Linked DNA regions of Homo sapiens: regions 1 and 3 are each linked to region 2. Evidence: fine-mapped expression QTL. A gene starts in region 2. Each other region holds a variant in brackets. All regions are shown on one strand. Distances are from middle to middle. Region 1 overlaps TBC1D24 (TBC1 domain family member 24). Region 2 holds the start of PDPK1 (3-phosphoinositide dependent protein kinase 1). Region 3 holds the start of SPSB3 (splA/ryanodine receptor domain and SOCS box containing 3).

Evidence for each region. PIP is the estimated chance that this variant, and not a neighbour inherited with it, causes the effect.
Region 1: its variant is fine-mapped to the expression of PDPK1 in whole blood (INTERVAL, PIP 0.99).
Region 3: its variant is fine-mapped to the expression of PDPK1 in spinal cord (GTEx, PIP 0.98).

The regions. Positions count from the first base shown.
Region 1 is chr16:2,500,716-2,508,884 of GRCh38, reverse strand. TBC1D24 (TBC1 domain family member 24) reads right to left here. Exons shown (of 8, transcript NM_001199107.2): 8 at 3,155-8,081. The coding sequence ends at 7,927. Among named protein-coding and RNA genes, the nearest start is that of ATP6V0C, 9.2 kb to the left of the region's middle. RefSeq lists enhancers at 695-1,195, 1,196-1,696, 7,974-8,169. The variant G/A (reference allele first, on the strand shown) is at 3,448.
Region 2 is chr16:2,534,734-2,542,902 of GRCh38, reverse strand. PDPK1 (3-phosphoinositide dependent protein kinase 1) reads right to left here and starts at 4,882. Exons shown (of 14, transcript NM_002613.5): 1 at 4,767-4,882. The coding sequence starts at 4,790. RefSeq lists enhancers at 2,634-2,723, 3,787-4,487 and silencers at 4,606-4,735, 4,746-4,955, 5,066-5,375.
Region 3 is chr16:1,782,374-1,790,542 of GRCh38, reverse strand. SPSB3 (splA/ryanodine receptor domain and SOCS box containing 3) reads left to right here and starts at 7,972. Exons shown (of 7, transcript NM_080861.4): 1 at 7,972-8,041. It overlaps NUBP2 (NUBP iron-sulfur cluster assembly factor 2, cytosolic), which reads right to left and starts at 7,583. Exons shown (of 7, transcript NM_012225.4): 1 at 7,507-7,583; 2 at 3,888-4,006; 3 at 3,588-3,786; 4 at 2,712-2,866; 5 at 2,492-2,602; 6 at 2,336-2,405; 7 at 1,357-1,974. The coding sequence starts at 7,522. The coding sequence ends at 1,829. IGFALS (insulin like growth factor binding protein acid labile subunit) reads left to right here. Exons shown (of 2, transcript NM_004970.3): 2 at 1-130. RefSeq lists silencers at 3,408-3,576, 6,641-6,867, 7,295-7,504, 8,005-8,169 and an enhancer at 7,645-7,794. The variant C/T (reference allele first, on the strand shown) is at 3,881.

The DNA of each region.
Region 1 (8,169 bases), 34 kb after region 2:
CCCTGATCCATTCATTCAGTTCCCTGAGCACCTACTATTGTGCCAGGTGCTGAGTGAGGCCCCTGCCAGACAAAGACAAGTTAGAGTCCCTACCCTCAAGACCTGGCAGCCTACCAGGGAGCAGTAGCGTCCCCAACGGTACAGCCAATGCCGCACCAGAAGTGTGGTTCCTAGAAGCAGGGGGGACAAGGGAAGGAGGTGCTGGGACTAGCTCGGTGGGTCGCAGAAGAGGTGATCTCTGAATTAGGACTTGAAAGATGAAGAGAGGGCATAGAGCAGGGGAGAAACATGATCCAGTCTGTATTTAAGTAAGTCACAGACTGGTCGGGCACATGGCTCACACCTGTAATCCCAGCACTTTGTGAGGCCAAAGTGGGCGGATCACCTATGGTCAGGAGTTGGAGACCAGCCTGGCCGACATGGTGAAATCCCGTCTGTACTAAAAATGCAAAAATTAGCCGGGTGTGGTGGCGGGTGCCTGTAATCCCAGCTACTAGGGAGGCTGAGGCAGGATAATCGCTTGAACCCGGGACGGGGAGGTTGCAGTGAGCAGAGATCATGCCACTGCACTCCAGCCTGGGTGACAGAGCAAGACTCCATCTCAAAAAAACAAAAACATGAAAATGAAACCCAAAGTCATAAGATAGAGAGGCATGGGGAGCAGCTGCTTGCTGGGGCCAGGTTTTCCTTTAGGAGTGGGGAAATGCCATGGAACTGGAGGTGGTGGTTCCACAACATGCTCATTCATGCAACCACCACCTCTGTCTGGGGTCGTTCAAATGGTTGGATAGTATGTCAATTTCACTTCAATTTTTTTAAAAGAAAAATGAAACAGTTTCATGGCAGGCTAGAGGGAAGACTGTGCCCTGGACACCTGCCACAGACTAGGCCCGGAAAGCAGCCTGAGGGAAGGCTGCTGGTAGAGGCGGCAGGAAGGGAGGGGGCGGCACTGCCTGGCCAAGCTCTGGGCAGACACCAGCCCCACAGTGAGCTGGCCTGCAGGAGGAAGCAGCCCTGCGCCCCACCTCCCAGGCCAGAGCGCTCTGCACGCCCCGCTCAGGGACAATCTTGCCCAATTCTGGCCTGAGTGTGTGTCCTAATGTCAAGCACAAGACAGTCCGAGCACTTACAGTAAGTGCAAGAGTTACTGCAGGGAGCGTGGCGGGTGTGGGAAGGGGGTGTCCCGCCACCACAGGCCCCAGGAGCACACCTGGAGAATCTCTGATCACCCTGGACGCACAGCAGCAGCGCACACCAACCCACAGGGGCTTCAGTTCATTCTGCAGTGCTAGGCACTCCTGCCCCTTGAGACTGACAGTCTTTAGGACAGGGGGTGGGGAGACCAGCCAACACCTGTCTCAGGTGCTGTGAAGCTAGAACGCGGACCCGGCCTCAGCGGGGAGCTCAGGGAAATCCTGGGAGGGACACTAGGGCCCAGGCATGAGGAGTGGCAAATAGCACGCGCAAAGGCCGGGAAACAGAGGCTTTCAGTTCAGAGGAACTGAAAGAAACCTGGTGCCAGAGAGCCTGTGGCTGTGTTGGGGGCCAAGCTTCCTGCCAGGCTAGCAGACCAGGAGGCCTCTCAGACCCGGGACAGGTGCTGCCCCAACAGTCCCCTGAAGGTACTGAAGGAAGGTGTTCAGAGGAGCAAAGAAAGAGGGCTTGGCAGGAAGGGGCCACCCCCGTGGCCAGTCTGGGGAAGAGGAACCCAGGAGCATAGAGTGGGCAGAGGCAGCTCACGTGACGGCAGGCAGAGGCTCCACAGCAGCTGCAGGGAGGGCCCCCAGCAGCCTCGGTCTCACTGGAGGAACTGGACAGGGAGGGGGCATCTGTGCAGGGCTCAAAAGAAAAAAGGCATTCTATTTTTCTTTGTATTATACCGATCCACAATTAAACACAAGGTACTAAAAAGACGTGGCCGGGCACGGTGGCTCACCCCTATAATCCCAGCACTTTGGGAGGCCGAGGCAGGCGGATAACTTGAGGCCAGGAGTTAGGGACCAGCCCGGCCAACATGGTGAAATCCGGTCTCTACTGAAAATACAAAAATTAGCCGGACATGGTGGCAGGTGCCTGTAATCCCAGCTACTCAGGAGGCTGAGGCAGGAGGATACCTCAAACCTGGAAGTTGGAAGTTGCAGTGAGCCAAGATCGCACCACCACATTCCAGGCTGGGCGATACAGCAAGACTCCGTCTCAAACAAAAAAAAAGACATTCATTAATATTGACGTGGCCAGGCGCGGTGGCTCACGCCTGTAATCCCAGCACTTTGCGAGGCCGAGGCGGGTGGATCACGAGGTCAGGAGATAATTCCATCCTAGCTAACAGGGTGAAACCCCGTCTCTACTAAAAATACAAAAAAATTAGCCGGGCGTGGTGGCAGGTGCCTGTAGTCCCAGCTACTCGGGAGGCTGAGGCAGGAGAATGGTGTGAACCCAGGAGGTGGGGCTTGCAGTGAGCCGAGATTGAACCACTGCAGTCCAGCCTAGGTGGCAGAGTGAGAGTCCATCTCAAAAAAAAAAAAATTATATATATATATATATATATATAGAGAGAGAGAGAGAGAGAGAGAGAGAGAGAGACGCAAACTTTCAAAGGAAATACTCATTTTGAAATTTTGAATGAGAAAGGTTGAGTTTGTTTTTTGATACTCGTGTTTTACACACGACAGGGGTTCTTCACTATTTTTTTGTGGAGATGGAGTCTCCCTGTGCTGCCCAGGCTGCTCTCAAACTCCTGGCCTCAAACAATCCACCCACCTCAGCCTCCTAAAGTCTTGGGATTACGGGTGTGAGCCACCACACCCGGCCTTGACAGGGATTCCTGATGAAACGTCTGACACTGATTCTTCATGGTGACTCCTCTAAGTCTCCCTAAGACTTTGCTGAGTGTAGCTGTCCACACAGCAGGCACTAGGAACAAAAGAAAACAAGACGGATCAGGGAATGCTGCCGTTCTCACCGGCCACGGCTGCAAATGCGACAGACATGTACCTGTCGCCTCAGTGGAGAGACTCGCTGGTGACCACAATGCGCAGATGCGGTCTTGTCAACCTAGCGCCTCCCTCTCTCCTCCAACACCCTGGAGAAGAGGCGTCCAGGACTTCCCATCCCTCTAAGCCTTCTCATAGCAAGTTATTTCACAGTGACCTTCTTTTACCAGTTCTCGATTTTATTTAGGACTCAAATTAACACCAACCAAACATATCACTAACTCACTTATTTTCACATTTTCAAAGTTGGATTGTGCTGCAAATCCATACATTTGTGCTCACTACACATTTTTTTTATTACATTCATTGAGAGGCTCCAAAGCATCAGTCCAATAAACATTTTTCCAGCCCGATAACCATCCTTCGTAAGAACTAAGAGGTAAAATCATTCACACAACTATTTTTTCCCTTCTATCCTTAGCTCATAAGCATTTGACCAAATGCCAATGTTTTT[G/A]CCAGTTCATGTTGTCCGTGCCTTATCACAAGTGACATGTCTACAGGACACGGTATCCACTGACTTTGCTTCCTTGGTCCCAAGAAAAGGTGTTGACAAATTCCATAGTTTGGTAAAATGAGTGAGTCTGCAATTGTGGGAGGCATTTTGTTTTTAGCAATGAATCACATTACATTGTACCTAACTTCTCAAGCACAATCTGATACTAAGATGATGAAGATAGTTCTTAAAAACTCTTTATACCAGATGATTTTTAAAAATCCACATACTTTTCTACCTAACATAGATGTTGTAGGGTGAAGAGCCTATGAGGCTTGTTTGGCACTCCTGCTTCATTTGATAATTTCTCCACGCAAACAAGACATTTAGGCTGAGAAAGAGAACCAGCAAGAATCTGGATGAGCTGGGCACAGCAGCTCACGCCTGTAATCCCAGAATTTAGGGAGGCAGAGGCGGGAGGATTGCTTGAGTCCAGGAGTTCAAGACTAGCCTGGGCAACACAGCAAGACTATGTTCTCCACAAAAAGGGAGGAAAAAAATCTATATGAACCCAAATTTGAGGCAGGTGCTGTATTGCCTAATTAGTGGCCATTTGGGTTTTTTTGACCAGTGGTTTTGTGAGTTTGATGATATTCTGGACTTAGTAAAAATGTGAGAAAGTAAACAACTGTAAAAATTAAATCGATTCCTGGACAGTGGGAAAAAAACGGGGCAATCTCGGCTGGGCGCGGTTGCTCACGCCTGTAATCCCAGCACTTTGGGAGGCCGAGGAGGGCAGATCACGAGGTCAGGAGATCAAGACCATCCTGGCTAACACGGTGAAACCCCATCTCTACTAAAAATATAAAAAAATTAGCCGGGTGTGGTAGCAGGTGCCTGTAGTCCCAGCTACTCAGGAGGCTGAGGCAGGAGAATGGCGTGAATCCGGGAGGCGGGGCTTGCGGTGAGCCGAGATCGCGCCACTGCACTCCAGCCTGGGCGACAGAGCGAGACTCTGTCTCAAAAAAAAAAAAAAAAAAAAAAGGGACAATCTCAATAGGCCTGTGGTTTAGTTAACAGCAATGCAACAATGCTTATTTCTTTGTTTTGATATTGACTTGGGGGAAGGTGAGGGTACATGGAAACCCTGTACCGTCTCTGCAACTCTTCTGCAAATCAAAAATTACTTCAAAATAAAAAGGTACACAACTAAATTACTAAATATAAACTACTCAAGGAGACTGCAAAGGCTTTATGGGTTCAGAAAGTGGATAAGAGAAATATGAAGGCCTCTGAAATCTTCAAAACGTTTTAAAACAAATTCCACTGAAAAACTCAAAAAATGAAGTATGCGGCTTACAAAAATAGAAAAATTAAAATACTTTAGTTCATTAAAACTCTGAAAAAATTCAAGTACAAATGACTTACTCTCATAAGTTCTTTTGCTTAAACTGATTTTCTGAAGCCCCAAAGGCATATAATCTGCTTTAATGAATTCATTTAATAAACTATTTTAAATTAGGTGCAATTGTTGTTTTAAAAATAAATGTTAAACATTTATTCAGCACAAAGTGGTCTATTCAAAAAAATTAAAAAATAGGCTAGGCGCGGTGGCTCACGCCTGTAATCCCAGCACTTTGGGAGGCTGAGGGGGGGGTGGATCACGAGGTCAGGAGTTCAAGACCAGCCTGACCAACACAGTGAAACCCTGCCTCTACTAAAAATACAAAAAAAATTTAGCTGGGCGTGGTGGCGTATGCCTGTAATCCCAGCTACTCAGGAGGCTGAGGCAGGAGAATCGCTTGAACCCAGGAGGCGGAGGTTGCAGTGAGCCAAGATCATGCCACTGCACTCCAGCCTGGGTGACTCTGTCCCAAAAAAAAAAAAAATCAAAAAATAATTCTTTGAATGTTTCTAAAAACAAATGATAATTTATTATGCAGTTTCAACAAATGTTGGCTTTTTTTTTTTTTAAACAAAGAATGGCTACTTCATAGGCAGAGCAGCCACTTTTGGCTAATTTTTAACATCCAAAGCTAATAAATAATCAAGAAGAAATAGAGAACATTAACAAAATAAATTATGTTCTATTTGGGAATACCTAATATCAGATACTAACAAGTACAGTGATAAGAATAAAAAAGATAATAATCACACATACCTTCTAGGTTAGTAGAAAAGTTAGGAAAAGATATTAAATTTAAAGAAACAATATTTTGCATGCACACAAAAAACAAAGAACTTCGCTCATGATGTGGAAATCATGACCCAGCAGCAATCCGTCTTCCTGGTCCAGATCACTGGAAGGCCCGGGTGGGGCCCCCTGGGGGCAGCCACGCAGAACCTGCTGGACTTAACTCGCCAGAAAAATCACCACCCAGTTCAGGAAGTTTGCAGAGGGAAACCTACAAATGGTCCACGGATATGACTTCCCTGCTCCTGGAGGGCTCCCTCTGGAAGAGGCTTGCAGCATTCCAGTCATAGAATGTGGGTGAGCACTACAGCGGGCAGCCTCCCACACCTGCTTGGCTGTAGGCCCAGGAAGCCCCCGGAGGCCCCTCTGGCTGAAGAGATCAGACTCAGCTTGGAGCCCTGGAGTTGATGCAGCAAGACCATGTTTAATGAACACCAAAGCTGGCGGTACAGATGAGGGCCTCAGGGGCTCAGGCGGGGGCCTGGAGGGCTGCGGTGGGCTGAGATGAGTGGCGACTTCCCTCCCATACCTCTCCCCGTGAGAGGGATTCACCCCATCCCCCTGCGAGCCTCTCAACAGTCCTGTGAGGAGGACAGCAGGGCATGGGGACTGGCCCCATTTCACAGCTGGGGAAACTGAGTTCCAGACGGGTTTGTCAGCTTGCCCAAAGCCACACAGGGTTCCCGGTCCTTCCTCCTGCACCACTGTGCGCCCAGTCAGAGGCTACATGAGCAGATGGTCAGGGGAGGCTAAAGCCCCATGGGAGGAGCAGGCAATGGTGTGGGGATGGAAAGTGGCACGGTGCAGGGGACTCCAAGTGGCACTGGCTGGAGGCCAGCAGGGACGGGGGTGGGGGCAGGACTGCTGGTACCTGCCTCTGTGACCCAGGCTTCCATGGTCCCAGAACAGCCACTTGGGCCTCTGTGTCTCCCTTCTCCCCTCCGTGGTGACCAGACCCTCAAGACGAGTTGAAGGAGGTCATGGGGCATGGAGGGAGGTCACAAGGCAGGGGGCTGCCCCCTATAGTGCCCAGAGGCAAGGCCTCCCCTGGCACCTACCTGCGTCTGGCCAGCGCAGGGCTCAGGCAGGGCAGGGGCCCAGGGGCCCAAAGGCTGTAAGGTGAGAGGCTCACAGAAAACCCTGACACGTGGCCAGCCACAGCACCACAAGAGGGACAGAGGGAGGACATGCATCCATGCAAGGTGGCCAAGGAGGTGCTGTGTGGCCAGGGCCAGGGGAGGGCACGGGGCCTGGTGCAGAGAAGCAGTTGGGGCTGCACTGAGATGAGCATGCCACAAAGAGGGGCTTGGGCGTGACCCTGGGCCCCAGGTCATTGCAATGACAAAGAGGTGAAATGGGCAGCTGCAGAGGCTACAGGAGCTCAAGGAGGCCTGGGCTGGAAGGGAGGGGAGCTGAGAAGCCCCCTGGGTCCAGGCTTCTCTGGGCAGACCCCTGGAAATGGAGCTTGCTGGTCTGGGTCGGTCCCTGAGGGCCTCTCCCGGGGCTACCTCTTCAGATGGGAACACGCAGGGAGGCCCAGCAAAAGCTTCAGGCTCTGCAGAAACACAAGGACATGTGACATCCCCCTCCAGCTCCCACCCTCCCTGGGGGTGGAGCCCAGCACAAATCCCACCCTCCTCCTCCCACCCAGCAGCTCCCAAACGCAGCCCAGGGGAGCCTCAGAGGCAGCCAAGAAGGGTTAATGTGAGAGGTGGCCCAGGAGGCCTGGGGAGGGAACTGGGGCAAACGCCCAGGACAGGGGGTGGGGTCCGCCAGGGGGCAGGCCCAAGGGTGCCAGTCTGTTCTCGGGATCTACGCTGGGATTCAGTCGCCAGCCAGCCAGGCTGCAGGGCCCTGCTCAGGAGGGCGCGATGCTATGCGGCACCAGCAGGGGGCACCACAGGCCCACCCTTAGCTGCACGTTCCCACTGCCGTTGTACTCCCACCCCAGGGGCTCAGGCTGCCTAGAGAGGCTCAGGGGCAGCAAGACCCAGACACTCCCAAGGCCTTGGGCTATGGAAGCCTCCACGGAGGAGGAAGGTACTTCCTATGCCAGCTCTGGGTGGGGCTGGGGGCACAGCAGGCCCTCCAGCTCTGACCCAGATGCAGGTGGACTGGGGAAGCCCAGCCCAAACCCCAGGTAGAGGCAGCAGCAGGTCCAGGCAACGCCAGGCTTGGCCATGGGGTCCTGCCGTCCCCCAACCCTGCCTACCACATGGGGGTTTCATCTGCTCTCTGCTGCCCGAGGCGGCAGCCCAGCCTCGGCCCACCGCCCCACCACGGCTCAGTCACCGTGGCACAGGCCGTCACTGGGTGTCAGGGTCCTGGAAGCCCCAGGCCTCCACGGCAGCAATGAGGAAGTTCTCGGAGCAGAGGGGCTGGTTGTTGAAGGTGTCGCAGTGGCTTGTGCGGCCCCGGTTCAGGTCCCCATCGATGTAGAGCGCCTGGCCGCCTCCTCCCCCTGCAGGATGCTCAGGTCAGTGGCGGCCTGACTGCCCTATCAGCACTGACCCAGGCACCTCACCTGCTGTCCCAGCTGTCCTGCCCTG
Region 2 (8,169 bases):
GACACACAGCCTCTCCTCAGCCCTCTCCAGCACGGGGAGAGGGCACTGTCACCAGCTCCGCAAACACGCAGGAGACGGGGACCTCCAGAACTAACGTCCTTGGTCTCCAGACCTACCTTCAAACCTCATCTTTAAATATTTCGAATCCCTGCGTGCTACAAGCTGACTTGAAACACAGATTGGGCCGGTCCCAGCACGGTGGCTGGTAGAGAGGGCATCTGATCTTGTCTGTGGAATGACGGAAGTCACTGGACTGTCCAGGAACTACATGCCCACCTTCATCAGATGGAAACCACACACTTGTTTATTCTGCAGGGGGCCGTGTGCTCAACAGTGAGCTGCTAATGTCAGGCTTGTCCATCTTTTTCATACACAGGCTCTACAGTACTGTCAGTTCCCAATTCTGTGGGTCCCTGTATAATCCAACTCTTTAAACAGAAACCAGGCTGGGTGCGGCGGCTCATGCCTGTAATCCCAGCACTTTGGGAGGCCGAGGCGGGAGGATCCCTTGAGACCAGAAGTTTGAGTAGCCTGGGCAACATAGTGAGACCTCATCTCAATAAATAAATTAAATAAATAAATAATGTAGGTGGTGCGCACCTGTAATCCCAGCTACTTGGGAGCCTGAGGCACGAGAATCACTTGAACCCATGAGGCGGAGGTTGCAGTGAGCCAAAATCATGCCACTGTACTCCAGCCTGCGTGACAGAACGAGACTGTCTCGAAAAAATAAATAAATAAACAAACAGAAACCAGAATCAGGTGCTCTTATAAGGGATGTGTAGCCCAGAAACTCAATCTTAACACATTCTAAATGACCTGGAATTTCTTGGAGCAAAAATTCCAGTTTAAATATCAGGAAAATTGTCTAGACTAAGAGAATGGAAACGGACTTTGTGCAACCAACATCAGGTACAGAAAAGAGACCCCAACAATCATCATGAACCCAAACAGGCCTTTCTCCTCACTAAGAGAAGAGAACACACACAACCCATGCCTTGTTACTCTTTGAGAAGATGTGCCCTGCCTGTGATCTAGCAGCTAGAGACGGAACATACAACCTGTTCTCAATATTCAAATAATTTTTTAAAGGACATGGTATCACACTGAGCAAGTGAATAATGCAATTCTGCTGTAGAAGAATGCACGGCTGAAAAGACCTGAGCAACTCATGTCCAAAACTTGCAGTTTCCACAGCAGCACTTCCTCCCAGCACACTGCCCTTTGAACCTGCTTTCTAAACAACTGTGCTGGGCAGCCCAGTGGCCACATGTCATCGCACAGCAGGTGTGGAGCAGCATAGAGCACCCTGGCCCTCGCACCTGCTTGGGGGACTGTTTCTGCACCCAGGGCTTCTCTGCAGCCACAACCTGCCCCACACAGAACTGCAGCACCACGTGGCATCCTGTCCATTTCCTCAGAAGGGGAAAGTGCCACGCCAGTGCCCACTCTCTTCCAAACACATCCTCTCAGAAGGGACTGGCCACGCTTGCCCCCTCATTTCTGCAGCGCTTCCCAGTTCATCACCTGCTTGCCAGACTCCGTCTCCCACCGGTGTCAATCAGCTGCCCTGGAGCATCTAAACCCTGGGTCAGGCGGCTCAGGGGATGAGTGCATAGACTGAAAAAGGAACACTCCCTGTTTCTCCCCAAAACTGTGCTGAAGGCAGTCTAGAGGGCCAAGACCTGTCAAGAAGAGCTGCCCAAGGCCTCTTTTCAGGCCCCACATCTCTGCAGGCTGCTGCTGGATCCTTCTCATAAGAACACATCTCAGAAAAGCAGAACAAACCACTTCCCTCTTACCACTGGGAGCTCACCTTGCCAGCTCTAGACTCAGCTTGGACTGGCTGTCAGGGCAACGTTGCGTACAGGAATACATCACACTATGCACCAGACCAGCCACATAAGGAGGAACTCCCCAAAAGGAGAGAGAAAATCGAAAGCCACTTCTCTCCATGCTCCCTGCTTCTCCCCTCACCTTCCCCTAAGGATGCAGCCACCTTTGCAAAAGACAGAACCACCCTAGGGAGGGCAGGAGGCCACTCTGCCTAGTCCCCCAATTCTACCTTCAGCAAAATCATTACATGTTTCTTTGTTCCAAAGGGAGGATTTCAAGCCTCACCCATTCAGAGTATCGGCCCTCAAACAAGGCCGAATCACAGCCTCTTCCCAAACAGCTGCTTTCTGACAGCAGGAGGCTGAAACAGGCCCCGGGGTCACAGAGTTCAGCCATCTGCCAAAGAAATATGTACAGTTCTTCCATATGAAGACACCCCTCCTACCTCCAGCACGGCATGGTCAAGACATTCAGGCCCAATCCCTGGGAAGACATCCTGGGCAGTGGCACTGAAGATTTCCTTACAGAGTGCTGGGCTGAGCTGCCCGGCAGACCCTCCCTCAGGGGCTCCGAACGTGAGGGGCAGGGTGACACTGGAGTCTCTACCACTTATGAGGCAGGTACCTAACGCCTCTGCAGCTCAGCTTCTGCACCCGTAAAATGGGAACAACACCTACCTCGCAATGAGGTGTGAAAGTACCTAGGGAAGCGCCTGTCTTGAGTAGTCAGATCAAGAAATGGTACTCACTGCCTCTGGCCCACTTAGCATCAGACTGGGCCAGGCCACTGTCTGCCTTCACGCTCGCACTGCTCCCCCTGTTGGCTGTCCACGCGGACACACAAGGGAAAGTTCACTGGGAAGGGGGCTTCTCACACAGGGCCTACAGGGCCACCCTAAAGTCCAGATGCAAACCCACTTGAACCCTGAAGATCTATCCATCCTCAGGTGAAAATCCAGGATCAGGGCTGCCTCTACCATTACAGACAGGAAACACGGCATGTTCTCACATACGTACACATGGGGGAATCCAGCTGACAGATGCAAAACGCTCGTTCGTGACACTTCCTCATGTGGAAATCCATCTTGCATTCTATCATTCTTGCTCACTGGATTCCAGTGTTTTTGTGCAAAAAAGCCATCTCATGCGAAGAAAACTGCAGATATGAAATGTCCATCATGTGGAACTGCCAAGGCCATGAGAAAATTTGCTCTTTCCTCTTCCCGTGGATGACACCAAATACACACCTTGCATTGGAACAGCGTTACTGGGTGCGAGTTAACCTCACAAATTTCGCCATGACTGTCACTGGGTGCAGGTTAACCTCACAAACTTCGACATAACTCTCGGCCCCAGCCTCCACTGAGCCTGGCCAATCCGCCTAATTCATGTTTTTATGTTACCCGGGCCACTCTGGTGTACAGCCACACATGTCGAAATAGCGAAAGGCATCCCTTCAACATTTTTCTCAGCTGAACCTTCTTCCTTAACACGCATCTCTACAAAGTCCACGAGTGAGCTGCAGAAAGTTCAAGAGCCTCCTGACGTAGTTACAAAATTCAGCGTCACTCTGCCTTTTTCTCAGAAGAGGGCCCATACCTTTCCTCAGGTTCTCAAACAGACTCACAACCCCCCACTCCCCGCCCCACAAAAAAAAAGATCAAGAACGCCTATCAAAAAGCCACATCTGCCGGGCGTGGTGGCTCACGCCTGTAATCCTAGCACTTTGGGAGGACGAGGCGGGCAGATCACTTGAGGTCAGGAGTTCCAGACCAGCCTGGCCAACATGGCGAAACACCTTCTCTACTAAAAATACAAAAATTAGCCGGGCATGGTGGCATACGCCTGTAATCCCAGCTACTCAGGAGGCTGTGGCAGGAGAATCGCTTGAACCCGGGAGATGGAGGTTGCAGTGAGCTGAGATCGCATCACTGCACTCCAGCCTGCGCGTCGAGAGGGAGACTCCATCAAAAAAAAAAAAAAAAAAAAGCCGCATCCTGGAAGACACGGGATCAATTAAATTTCTTGGGTTTTCCTTCATTTAAAATATTTGCCTTTTAAATCAAATGTTAAAGCCATGTAGACGTTCTTCCATCACCCACTGCACATCGCATACAAGGCATAAATTTTTAAACCGTCGTCCCCAGACTGTAGAACTTAGCATATGGAAAACATAAAAACACGAGGGATACTTTTAGCGATAGAGAGAAAATATAGAAACACCAGCGACACTTTTAGCAAAACATTTCACCCAACAAGTGGTTTGTTTTGGTCCTTCCCCTAAAATCCCTCCTACCTGTCAAGCTCACTTTCCCCTCGGTGATCCTGCACATTCGGCCTCCCAGGGGCTTCCCACAACGCTGAGCACAGCCACGGGCAGCAAAAGCACCCAAATGCCCCTTGGCCGGGCCGTGAAAGGCGAGTTTTCCCGACCACTGTCATCAAGAATCTGGAAAAGGGGGCCCAGGAGCATCAGGTGCTTTCAGCAAGAACTTGCACCTTCTGCTTCTCTCGCAGGCGGAGGCGCCAAGGACCCCGTTCCAGGTGGAAGCCCAGGGCGGTTCCTCTACAGACAGAACCGAAAGGTAACCCTGGAGGCTCGGCTCCAGGCTGCGCCAAGCCGAAAACAAACTTTCCAGGCACTTCCACCCCGCTGGGCCGGGTGACACCTCCCGGCCTCCCCCGCCCTCCGCGCGTCTGTCAGCGCCCCCGGCCAGGCCGCCGCCCGCCGCAACCCAGGCCCGGTCTCCCCGCCGCAGCCAAGCAGCGCCCTCGGCCGGCGCCCGCCATCCCCGGCCCGGCCGCCCGGCTGCAGGTAAGGAGGCACCCGGCCCTCGGGACCCCGGGCCGCCCCGCCTCGCCGGACCCGGGCGGCCGCCGGACCCGGCAGGGTAACAAACCGGCGCGTCCAGTCCGCCGCCGCGCGCTCACCAGCTGGCTGGTGGTCCTGGCCATGGGCCCCGCGTCGGCGCGGGCGCCTCCCCCGCAGCGCTGCGCGGCTCGGCGCCTCCTCAGCGTCCTCCTCCCCGAAGCGGAGCCCCAGCAATGGCCGCCCTCATCCTGCGCCCGCCCCGTCGCCCGCCGCCCCCCGCCCCCGGCGCCGCCCCGCCCCCGCGCGGCGCCGGGCAGGACTTCCGTCGCGCCGCAGCCGACGCCCGCGCCCATTGGCCGCGCCCATCGTCGCTCCGCCGCGGCCTTAGTGGGCTCCGCCTCCGCTCCAGCTGCATTTCCGGGTTGGGGCCTGGCGGGCGGGAGAGGCCCGACCCCGCCTGGGGAGGGGGACCTCGCGCGAACCAATCCCAGGGCCTGCGGGGCGGGGCTGGGCGGGGCTGGGCGGGGCAGGGGGCGAGCTGTCATTCCGGCATCCCAGACCGGGAAACTGAGGCTCAGAGGGGACCAGGCTCCGGCCAAGGTCACGCCCGAGGTAGCGGCGGAGCTGTGCTCGAACCCGGAACTCGGATTCCGGAGCCGGCTCTGCGTAAACTCAGAGGCGCAACTTTGCTAGTTTCACAACTAACAAGCGTTCACGGAAGGAAATCTGGGCTATCAAGTCACATTCACGGCCGGGCACGGTGGCTCACTTTGGGAGGCGGAGGTCGAGGCGGGCGGATCACTTGAGGTGAGGAGTTCGAGGCCAGCCTGCCAACATGGAGAAACCCTGTCTCTACTAAAAATATACAATTAGCCGGGCGCCTTGTAGTTGTTAATGTCGATAATGTTTTTTTGTGTTTTTTTGTTTTGGGTTTTTGGTTTTTTTGAGATGGAAATTTGCTCTGTTGCCCAGGCTGGAGTGCAGTGGCTCGATCTCTGCTCACTGCAACCTCCGCCTCCCGGGTTGAAGCGATTCTCCTGCCTCAGCCTCCCGAGTAGCTGGGACTACAGGCATGTGCCACCACACACAGGCAAATGTTTGTATTTTTTTGTAGAGACAGGGTTTCACCATGTTGGCCAGGGGCTGGTCTCCAACTCCAGTGATCTGTCTGTCTCCGCCTCCCAAAGTGCTGGGATTACAGGTGTGAGTCACCACGCCCGGCCAACTTTATTTTTTTTTGAGACAGAGTCTCTGTCGCCCAGGCTGGAGTGCAGTGGCGCGATCTCGGCTCACTGCAAGCTCCGCCTCCCGGGTTCACTCCATTCTCCTGCCTCAGCCTCTCCGAGTAGCTGGGACTACAGGCGCCCGCCACCACGCCCAGCTAATTTTTTTGTATTTTTAGTAGAGACAGGGTTTCACCGTGGTCTCAATCTCCTGACCTCGTGATCCGCCCGCCTCTGCCTCCCAAAGTGCTGGGATTACAAGCGTGAGCCACCGCGCCCGGCCAACTTTATTTTTTTTTATACTGACACATGCCCATGCAGTTCTTGAGTAATGCACAGAAAAATCGGAAGCAGTGAAGGACAAACAGCTTGAGGAACTAGTACACAGTGAACTCTAGAACACGGAGCCCAGGGTGGAGGAGCCTCGGGGCAGGGGCCAAGGGCCAAGGGTCAAGGGTCACAAGAAGAAAGCATCTGAGCAGGCACCAGGGGACAGGGGAGAGAGGGGCAGCTGAAGGTCAAAGAAGAAAGGACAGTTCTCAGTTGTCCTGGGGGCCCCAGTGGCAGCCAGAATGCTTGGCCAAGCCCAAGGCAAGCTAGACCAGGAAACCCCTCGCCCTCTGGCGACACAGACAAATCTCCCCATGGGTCAGGTCCAGTGGCTCATCCCAGGACACCGCACAGACAGCGGATGTCTCACCTGGCCCAGCACGGTTCTCCCGACCCGGGCTGGAGGAAAGAGACTGACCCCTCTCTTTATCTCACCCTTTCCTGCCGAGAACCTCTGTCTATGGCCAATGGATGACCTCAGGCCAAGAATGCAATAACTTGGCCTGACGTTGTGAGGTCACGGTCCATCCAGGGAGGGGCAAGAAAATGACCACAACCATCCCGGGAGGGGCTGGAAAGCTGCCTCATGTGCGTGGCACTGTGCTGCGTCTACGTGTTCCTCACTCGCCTCTACAATGCTCATGGCACGAGGGAGGAAACGGGGGTGCAGAGGCTAAGGAACGTGCCCAAAGCCCTACAGCTGGTGTATTAGTTATATACTGCTGTGTAACAAATTGCCTCAAAACTTTGATGTGTAAAACAACAAAGAAACTCATGGCTCCTGCGGGTCTGGAATCCAGGAGAGGCCAGGCTGGGTGGTCTGGCTCAGGCTCTCTTGTGAAGTTGCCATCAAGATGCTGCCAGGACTGAGTCATCTAAAGGCTAGAGCAGGGCCGAAAGATTCACTTCCTAAAAGGTTCATTCCCACGTTCCCACAGCTGTGGGCTGGAGGCCTCCGTCCCTCACCAGTGCGGCCTCTTCCCAGGCGTGTGTGTTTTCAAGCCCCAGCAGCTGGCTTTCCCCAGAGCGAGTGGCCCAAGAAAAAGAGAACACACACAAGATAGAAGCCGCTGCGTCTTTAATGACCTAACCTCAGAAGTGACACACCATCACTTCCAACACATCTGCTGGTCACACACAACCCTGGTAGAAAGTGAACGGGCGTGTTTTGGGAGGCTGAGGCAGGAGCACTGCTTGAGGCTAGGTGTTTGAGAGCAGCCTGGGCAACAAAGTGAGACCCTGTCTCTAACAAAAAAAAAACTTTTTAAATAAAATCTTTTAAAAAGTGAAACAAGGTTACACAAGGGTATGAAATCCAGAAGGGGCCATTCCTGGGGGCCCCCCTTCAAGCTAGTTGAGGACAGAGCCAGGATTCCAATCTCAGGGAGAGACACAGAGAAGCTAGAAGCACAGGCCCAGCCTGGACCCTGCAGGTGTGCACACCAGAAGGCCCTGAGTTACAAAGCCAGGGAAGGAAGGGCTCTCCCAGCAAGGATCCCAACCTGGATTGCATCTCTAGACTGACCCTGAAGCTACTCAGTAGCGTCTGGAAAGGAGACTAAAGGGGAAAATAGGGGGCAGGGAGATCAGGTGAGAGAAAAGGGGGCTCTCAAAAGACAAGAGCACTGGCTAGGCGCTGTGGCTCACACCTGTAAGCCCAGCACTTTGGGAGAGTGAGGTGGGTGGATCACTTGAGGTCAGGAGTTGGAGACCAGCCTGGCCAACATGGTGAAACCCCGTCTCTACTAAAAATACAAAAATTAGCCAGGCATGGTGATGGACGCCTGTAATTCCAGCTACTCAGGAAGCTAAGGCAGAAGAATCTCTTGAACTCGGGAGGCAGAGGTTGCAGTGAACCAAGATCGCACCACTGCACTCCAGCCTGGGTGACAGAGGGAGACTCTGTCTTAAAAAAAAAAAAAAAAAAAAGGTCTCCTGGCTGCCTCTGGCCCACAAGGCCCTGGTCACA
Region 3 (8,169 bases), 750 kb after region 2:
GGGACAGGTCCTCAGTGTCCTCAGGGGCCTGCCCAGTGCACTTGCTGGAAGACGCAAGGGCCTGATGGGGTGGAAGGCATGGCGGCCCCCCCAGCTGTCATCAATTAAAGGCAAAGGCAATCGAATCTAACAGGCACAGTGGGTGACTGCGAACGTGAAACCAGGGAGGGGGCTGGGGGCTCGGCGCGCAGCTGTGGTCTCAGAGCTTTGGGAGGCCGAGGCGGGCGGATCGCTTGAGCCCAGGAGTTTGAGAGACCGTCCTGGGCAACACAAGAGAGACCCCGTCTCTACAAAAAATAAAAAAAATTAGCATAGCATGGTGGCCCATGCCTGTGGTCCTAGGGAGGCCGAGGCAGGAGGACTACTGGAGCCTGGGAGGTAGAGGCTGCCGTGAGCCAAGACTGCACCACTGCACTCCAGCCTGGGCGGCAGAGCAACACCCTGTCTCAAAAAAACCCACCTGGCTCAGGGGAGGGGAGGATGGTGTTGCCTGGGTACGCCTTGGTCTCCTCACCTCTCTCCTCCCCGGCTTGGCCACGCCCAGGGCCCCCGCCTGGATCCTGCCCCGCCACCGCCCTGGCCAACTGCCCCACACCCATGTGTCTTCCTGGTCCCCGTGGCTGCCCCTCGGGCTCCCCAGAACATCCTCCAGGAATGATGGCACCAACTCGAATCCCCAGGGGCTCTGCGTCTCACCCCTCCTCTTTGAGGGATCGCCCTGAGGACCAGGCAGTGTCCCCGAGGGGTGTGGTCCAGGCAGCCAGGGCGCGGCTGAGGTGGGGTGAGGAGGGAGCGCGGGGCGGGCCGTCCGCCTTGCGTGGGAAGCCGCACCCCCTGCAGATGCCGTGGGCGTTTGTCTCTGCCCCCCCCAGGCACCGGCATCGTCAGCCCAGGTGCTCCTGGTGCCCTCTCACCCACCCAGAGGCCGCCCGGGTTGGTTCCGGGCCCCCACCTCCAGGGTCCTCCCCTGCTGAAGGCTGAGCTCTTCCTTTGGGAAAAATGGCGCGTTCTGCTTTCTGGAAGGGCTTTCCTTTCGGGTCTCACTGGGAAGAGGTGCAGGGGACCCCTGGGATTGGAGCTCCCTTCTCAACCTGACTTCTGGTCTCTGTCCCGGGAGGGGCCCCTTTAGTGTCCCAGGGAGGCCATTCTTCCACGGCGAAGGGGCCAGCTGTCAGGTTTATCACAAAATCTCCCCGAATTCCCACCAAATAAGATGCAAACACATCAGCACCTGGGCCCAGGGGCTTGTTGACAACGGAACGAACGAACCTGCCGGCCTGGCCCAGTCCAGCCCAGAAACTTACAGAAGCAGGTGCTGTCTGACCCCGAAGGACAGAAGACTCTAGAAACATCAGATCTGTCGCCACAGCAGCGGACACGTTTAATGGCAGGCGCCTCTACAGTTACAAAACATGCCTGAGGTCAGTTCGCCCCCTTAGGGGGCACTCCCCGAGCTAAACACAGATGACAGCGACCCAGGGTGCTGGAGGCCCGGGGTCACCTGAGGACTGCAGAAGTCCCGCGCTCCGCTAACTGTGTGGACACGCGGCTGCCAGGGGCACAGGTAGGCAACATGGATGGGAAGAGAGCCCAGGCCGCCCCCGTCTCACAGCTGCAGAGCACGCAGACCACGGCACTGCAGGCCAACCAGGCAGAGCTGCTGGTGCGACACATCCTGGGGCTGGGCTGGTCGGGGAGAAGCTCTCCGGCTGACGCTGCCTGGGCCTGCCCCTGCAGGGCCCGGGAACCGAGCCCAGGCCTCTGTTTCTCTGAGAGGCTGGAGCAGAGCCCTTGGTGGCCCTGGAAAGCGGCTGCAAGGTGGCCTTAGTCAGGGGAGGCACGCGGGCGTCGCGTCCAGAATCTTCTGGGCTATGGAGGTGAGTGCAGCGAAGGCGGGGCTCCCAGGGAACTCCTGGATGAAGTCGTGGCCCTCCTCCAGGGTCCTCATGAGCGCAGGGTCCAGGGGCACGGAGCCTGCAGGGCACAGTGGAGGCGGTGGCGCCATGTCCGCACCTTCCACTCCCACCATTGGCTCAGCTGGACGCACCCGAACCACCCGTGGCCTTAGAGGGGATTGAGGCGCTGCCAGACGATTTCCACCTCCAGACCCGCGGCCCTCCCAGCAGGCTGGGTCCTGCCACCCGAGAGGGCCCTGAGAAGGGCGCGGGCGAATGACCTGCAGGTCTCAGCGGCATGGCGTGTGGCCCGAGAAGAGAGGAGGAAACCGCTCCCGTCCCCTCCTCTCCCTTGGGCACTGGGGGCATGGAGGTCAAACCCGCCCAGGGCAGAGATGGAATGGGAGGCCGCGACCCCAGCACCAGCTTGGGACACTCACCTAAGAAGGGCACCCCGGCGAGCTGGGCCAGCTCCTCTCCGCCGCCCCTGGAGAAGACGCTGGTGCACTCCTAGGAGACGGTGGTGAGCCCAGCACTGCCCAAAGCCCCCACCGGCCAGGTGCTGCCTCGCCCCCTCTGCAACCCCCGGGACTCACCGTGCAGTGTGGGCAGGTGAAGCCGCTCATATTCTCCACGATTCCCATCACCCGCAAGCCCGTCTTCCTACAGAAGGTCAGCTCGCGCCTCACGTCCCCCACGGACACCGCCTGCGGGGCAGGAGCCGAGGCCACGGTCAGCCAGGCGCACCAGCAGGGACACCCGCCCAGCCCTCTGGGAAGCCACCCACAGGGACTCGGGAAGGTGCCGCAGCGCTACCTGGGGCGTGGTGACCACGAGGGCCCCCAGGGGCTGGTAGGGACGCAGGGCTTCTATGGTGGCCATGTGCTCATCGGAGGTCCCCGGGGGCGTGTCCACCACCAGGTAGTCCAGCTCCCCCCAGGCCACGTCGGACACAAACTGCTTTATCAGCGCTGCAAAGACGGGGCAGACGGGGCGGTCAGGGCAGGGCAGGTCTGCACACGTGGCCCTGCGCCACTAAGAACCAGCCAGGTCAGGCCGAGGGGCTGCAGTCCATCAGGTGTCACTTGCCACCAGCCTCCATCACAGGCTCTCGGGAGGCCCTGGCCCGCTGCAGGAGTGCAAAGATGGGGCCGGGGCCATTACAGCGTCCCTTTCTGCAGTGTCTGGCCCCTGCCCACAGAGCCCCCGCTGACTCCCCGAGGCCCCAAATCAGAACACGGAGCCAGGACCCTCCAGGCGTCTGTACCCACACATGGGAGCACCCACATTCTCCGTGGTGGATGCCCCACTGGTGCACCCACAGCCTGCGCCTCACTCCCACCAGCCTCTCCCTGCCTTTGGGGGCGTCTAATGCCACCTGCTCCAGAGGCACCAGAACCCCCTCAGCTCTGCCCCTATGACCTGCCACACTGGGGCCTCAGGTCCCTGCATGCCATGGCCAGGGTCTCAGCAGACCCCACTCCCTCTGACCGGGAGTTGGGGACAGCTGTGTGGCAGCACGGACCCAACTGGAGACACACCGCCAGCCTGAGCCCTGTGCCTGGTCGTGGGTGTCATGTGCAGGTCCCCAGGAACAGGCCTGGCTGCTGAAGAGGAACATTTCCACAGGAGAGGCCGGCACGGACGCTAACCCCCTTCACCAGGACGGCGGACGCGCCGCCCGGCCGTTACCGTTTTTCTTGGGGCCTCTCCACACCACGGCCTCGTCCGGCTTCTCCAGCAGGAAGCCCACAGACATGAGCGAGATGCTCTGCTCCCGGTCCAGGAAGACGGGTGCCCAGCCGCGGTCGCACTGGTGCACAGCCCTGCCCTGCGCCCCGAGCATGCGGGGGATACTGGGGCCACACAGGTCCACATCCAGGATTCCCACCTGCAAGGAGCGGCACAGCCTAGGCCGGGGGCACCGCCAGGCCTCCACCGGGATGCGGGCAGCTGCCCGGGGCTCCGCCCAGTGAGGGGTAGGG[C/T]GCTCACCTTCTTGCCTGCATGGCGCAGTGCCAGGGCCAGCTCCGTGGAGATGGTGCTTTTCCCAACGCCCCCCTTTCCTGAGAGGACCAGGATGATGTGCCTGACGCCGGCCAGGTTTCCAGGCTCTGGGCGGAAACACGACAGAGAAGGTCAGGGCTCCTGGTGCCCACTGTGCCCACACACGCGGGGTCACCCACTGCCTCTTGCACCCACGTTCTGAGCGGGGCAGTGGTGAATCGCCAGACCCAGAGGCAGCCCGTGCCCCACTTCGCCCCGATGTAAAGACCTCCAGGCAGGTCCCCTGCAGCCCCAGACCCGGGGGGACCCTCTAAGACCACGGCACTCCCTGCACCTGCCTGAGGCGGCGCTGCTGAGAGTGGAAACTGCCCAACTCCTCTCGCTGTGTGGAAGGGTGCATGCGTTCCTTCGTGCGCGTGTGCAAACACACACGTGGGTCACATGATCATGAAACTGCCAGCCCCCTGCTATTTCTAACGGGAACCAGACTCCACTCTTTCCCCAGCCAGTGCACCTGGGCTCGGCAGAGGCAGCAGAGGGCCCAGGGTGGGTGGCAACAACCACGCGTTGTCACACACCAGCGTCCCCGGCTCTCGGTCCCTGCAATGTGCGGTAAGTGAGGGGAGCCGGCTGCTTCCAGCACAGCTCCAGCTCCTCTTCCTTCCAGGGTCCCATCCTGTCCCTGCCACACGGCAGGGGCTGCTGTGTGCAGATACCTTGGCAAAACCCCTGCATTCTCACCCCGGCGCCACCGCTGAGGCCATGCCCCTTGTCTCCAGCAAGCTGCTCCATCCCCGACAGGTCCTTGGAGGGTGCATGTGAGGGGCTCAACACATGATGCGTAAAACCTGCCCCCTTCTGATCCGCCTCTCAAGGGCACGTTCAAAGGCTCCCAAGTCCAAAGCCTCCCGGAGAACCTGGCATGCAGGCGGGTCCTCAGACCTACAGAGGCTGCCTGAGGTCTCCTCCAGGGGACGCGGAAAAGGCAGCCCCAGCCCCACACTCCTGCAAACACAAAGCCCCGAGACCACGGCCTCCCGGTCACCCCTGGGGCAATAAAAGGGGTTCTGACTTAAATTACTTCAACACCAAGAGGTACCAGAAGTGGCCCGTGCAGAGAGGGAGCATGCACTTCTGTAGCTGCCGGGGACTCTGTCAGGCCTGGGTCCTGACTGCCATGCTGCCATCAGTGCTGGCACCAGCGGCAGTGTTAACCCCCAGGGGCTCTCCTCGTTGGCAGAGGTGGGGGAATGGTGCCTGTCTGGTGTGTTGGGCTGAGCACCATGGTAAATGCAGGCCTTAGTGTCAGGAACCGGGACAACAACCCTGAGGGTTCCCCCAAGAACATTTCACTTCTCAGCAAACTGAGGCAGCTCCTAAGCAGATTGTCAGCAAAGCACAGTCAGCATGAGCCTGCCGGGTGGGGCAGTGGGGCTGGAAGTGCAGGAAGGAGGCGAAGCACCATCTCCCCGAGGAAGGCGAGTGCGCTCTCCATGGACAATGAGTCCCGGTCAGCTTTATGGGTTAGCAAATCCAGATCATTCCACGTGGTGGACAAATATATTTTTACAGTAAATGTATATTTTTATTTTGAGAGGGGGTCTCATTCTGTCGCCCAGGCTGGAGTACAGTGGCGCAATCTCGGCTCACTGCAACCTCCGCCTCCTGGGTCCAAGCAATTCTCGTGCCTCAGCCTCCCACGCCTCAGCTTCCAGAGTACCTGGGACCACAGGCGTGCGCCACCATGCCCAGCTAATTTTTTATTTTTTTCGTAGAGACTGTTTCTCTATGTTGGCCATGCTGGTCTCAAATCTGACCTCAAGTGATCTGCCCGCCTCGGCCTCCCAAAGTGCTGGGATTACAGGCATGAGCCAACTTGCCCAGCCTAGGCCTTTTGAATTTTTATGTGCATATTTTCCCCGTTTAAAGAAAGCTTGGGGCCGGGCGCGGTGTCTCACGCCTGTAATCCCAGCACTTTGGGAGGCCGAGGTGGGTGGATCACCTGAGGTCAGGAGTTCGAGACCAGCCTGGCCAACATGGCGAAACCCTGTCTCTACTAAAAATACAAAAAAAATTAGCCAGGCGTGGTGGCGTGTGCCTGTTATCCCAGCTATTTGGGAGGCTGAGGCAGGAGAACTGCTTGAACTTGGGAGGTGGAGATTGCAGTGAGCCGTCATCGAGATTGTGCCACTGCACTCCAGCCTGGGCAACGGAGCGAGTCTCCGTCTCCCCCCAACAAAAAAACGAAAGCTTGGACTAGGTGCAGTGACTCACGCCAGTAATCCCAGCACTCTGAGAGGCCAAAGTGGAAGGATCATTTCGGTCCAGGAGGAGTTCCGCACCACTCTCAATAACGTATTCAGACCCCATGTCTACACATTAAAAATGTAGCCAAGCGGGGTGGTGCATCCTGTGGTCCCAGGTGCTCAGGAGGCTGAGGTGGGAGGGTCGCTTGAGCCCAGGAGGTCAAGGCTGCAGTGAGTTATGATCGTGCCACTGCACTTCAGCCTTGGCGACAGTTAAGACCCTGTCTCAAAAAAAAAAAAAAGCTTCTATCAATCTCAGTAATATCCTTACTTTGTAGTAAATCCGTCCTGATAATAAGGACAGGCTTTTCCAGGCTTCTCCTCTGGAATAAGACTCCAGCACTGGGCCAGGCGCCGTGGCTCACGCCTGTAATCCCAGCACTTTGGGAGGCTGAGACGGGCGGATCACGAGGTCAGGAGATCGAGACCATCCTGGCTAACACGGTGAAACCCCGTCTCTACTAAAAATACAAAAAATTAGCCGGGCGTGGTGGCGGGCGCCTGTAGTCACAGCTACTCGGGAGGCTGCGGCAGGAGAATGGCGTGAACCCGGGAGGCGGAGCTGGCAGTGAGCCGAGACCGCGCCACTGCACTCCAGCCTGGGCGACAGAACGAGACTCCGTCTCAAAAACAAAAGACTCCAGCACTCGGTTTCTAATCTGTCAGAGTTGTGCTGCAAGACCTTGCTGTCCGAGGAATGTTTTCCTTTTGGTATCGGACTCGAGGTCTCTTAGAAGATAAATGCGGCTCCCACTACTCAGGAGGGCCCACGGCGCTGATCTGGCGAACGGATCGTCCCCACTGGTGTGAATTCTGTCCCGCGCAACTTACACTTTTCTGAACACTGAGAGCGCCACTTCCACAAAGAACTTAAAAGCATGTGAGATTCTGGCGTCCGTCTTACTTTCATGACTGCGCGCGTGTGATTTATTTAGAGACAGGGTCTCGCTCTTGCCCGGGCTGCGGTGCAGTTGCAACCGCGACCTCCAGGATAGCGGGGCCCACAGGCGCCACCGCGCCCGCCTACAACGCGGTGCTCAACAAAGTTAACTTTAAAAGCTCCCCCAACTCCACGACTCAGGCCCTCCGAGATCACGGAGCTTCCACATCGAAGCAGGAGCACGCGGGAAACGACCCTGTTTAGAAAATGCCCGCGCCGCGGCCTCTGGCCCGGCCCAGCCACGCCGGCCGGTGATGGTCGCACCGGAGGCGCGCGACGCAGCGAGGCCGCCCCGGGAAGGGACGCGGCGGGGCCCCAAGCGAGGCCCTGGAGCGGCTCCGCACCCTGGCCCGCCACTCACCGGCCGCCGCCTCCATCCCGCCGCCTCCAGGAGCTCGCGGCTGCAGTCCGCTTACGCCCGCGGGCCGTCAGCCTCCCAGCTAGAGCGAAGGGCCTTCCAACCAATGGGCAGTGCGTGCCCGCCCGTGGCTCTTCTTGACAGGCCTAATCCTGCTGTCCCAGCCAATCAGCTTGCCGGAGGAGCTCTCGATCCGGTCCCGCAGGTTCCGGCGCAGACGATGACACGGACCTACTTTCCGGTCAACGCGGCCTGCGGTACCACCTCCCACCCGGGTCCAATGTGCGCGCGAGCTTTGTCTCCAACCGCTTGGGAACTGACCAATAGGAACGTTGGATTAGGACTGACAGTTCCTGAAACCTCTCGGCAATAGCTTTGTCACCCGACTCCCGCCCCCTCTCCCGAAGCTCCGAGACAGGTGTGCCCGCCCCTCGCCGCCGGAGCCAATGGGCGCAGGGGGCGGGGATTGTTTACGTCTCGCTCCGGGGCGGAAAGTGGGTCAGGGCCGGGCCGGCGGAGCGCGCAGCGGGGGCTGCAGGTGAGTGGCGGGGCACGGGCCGACGTCTCGGGCTCTGGGCGGGCGCGCTGACCTTGCGGGCGCGGCGGTAGCAGCGCGGCCAGGGCGCCGCCTTTGTTCCTCTCCGGAGGGCCGCGCCCGAGAGAGGC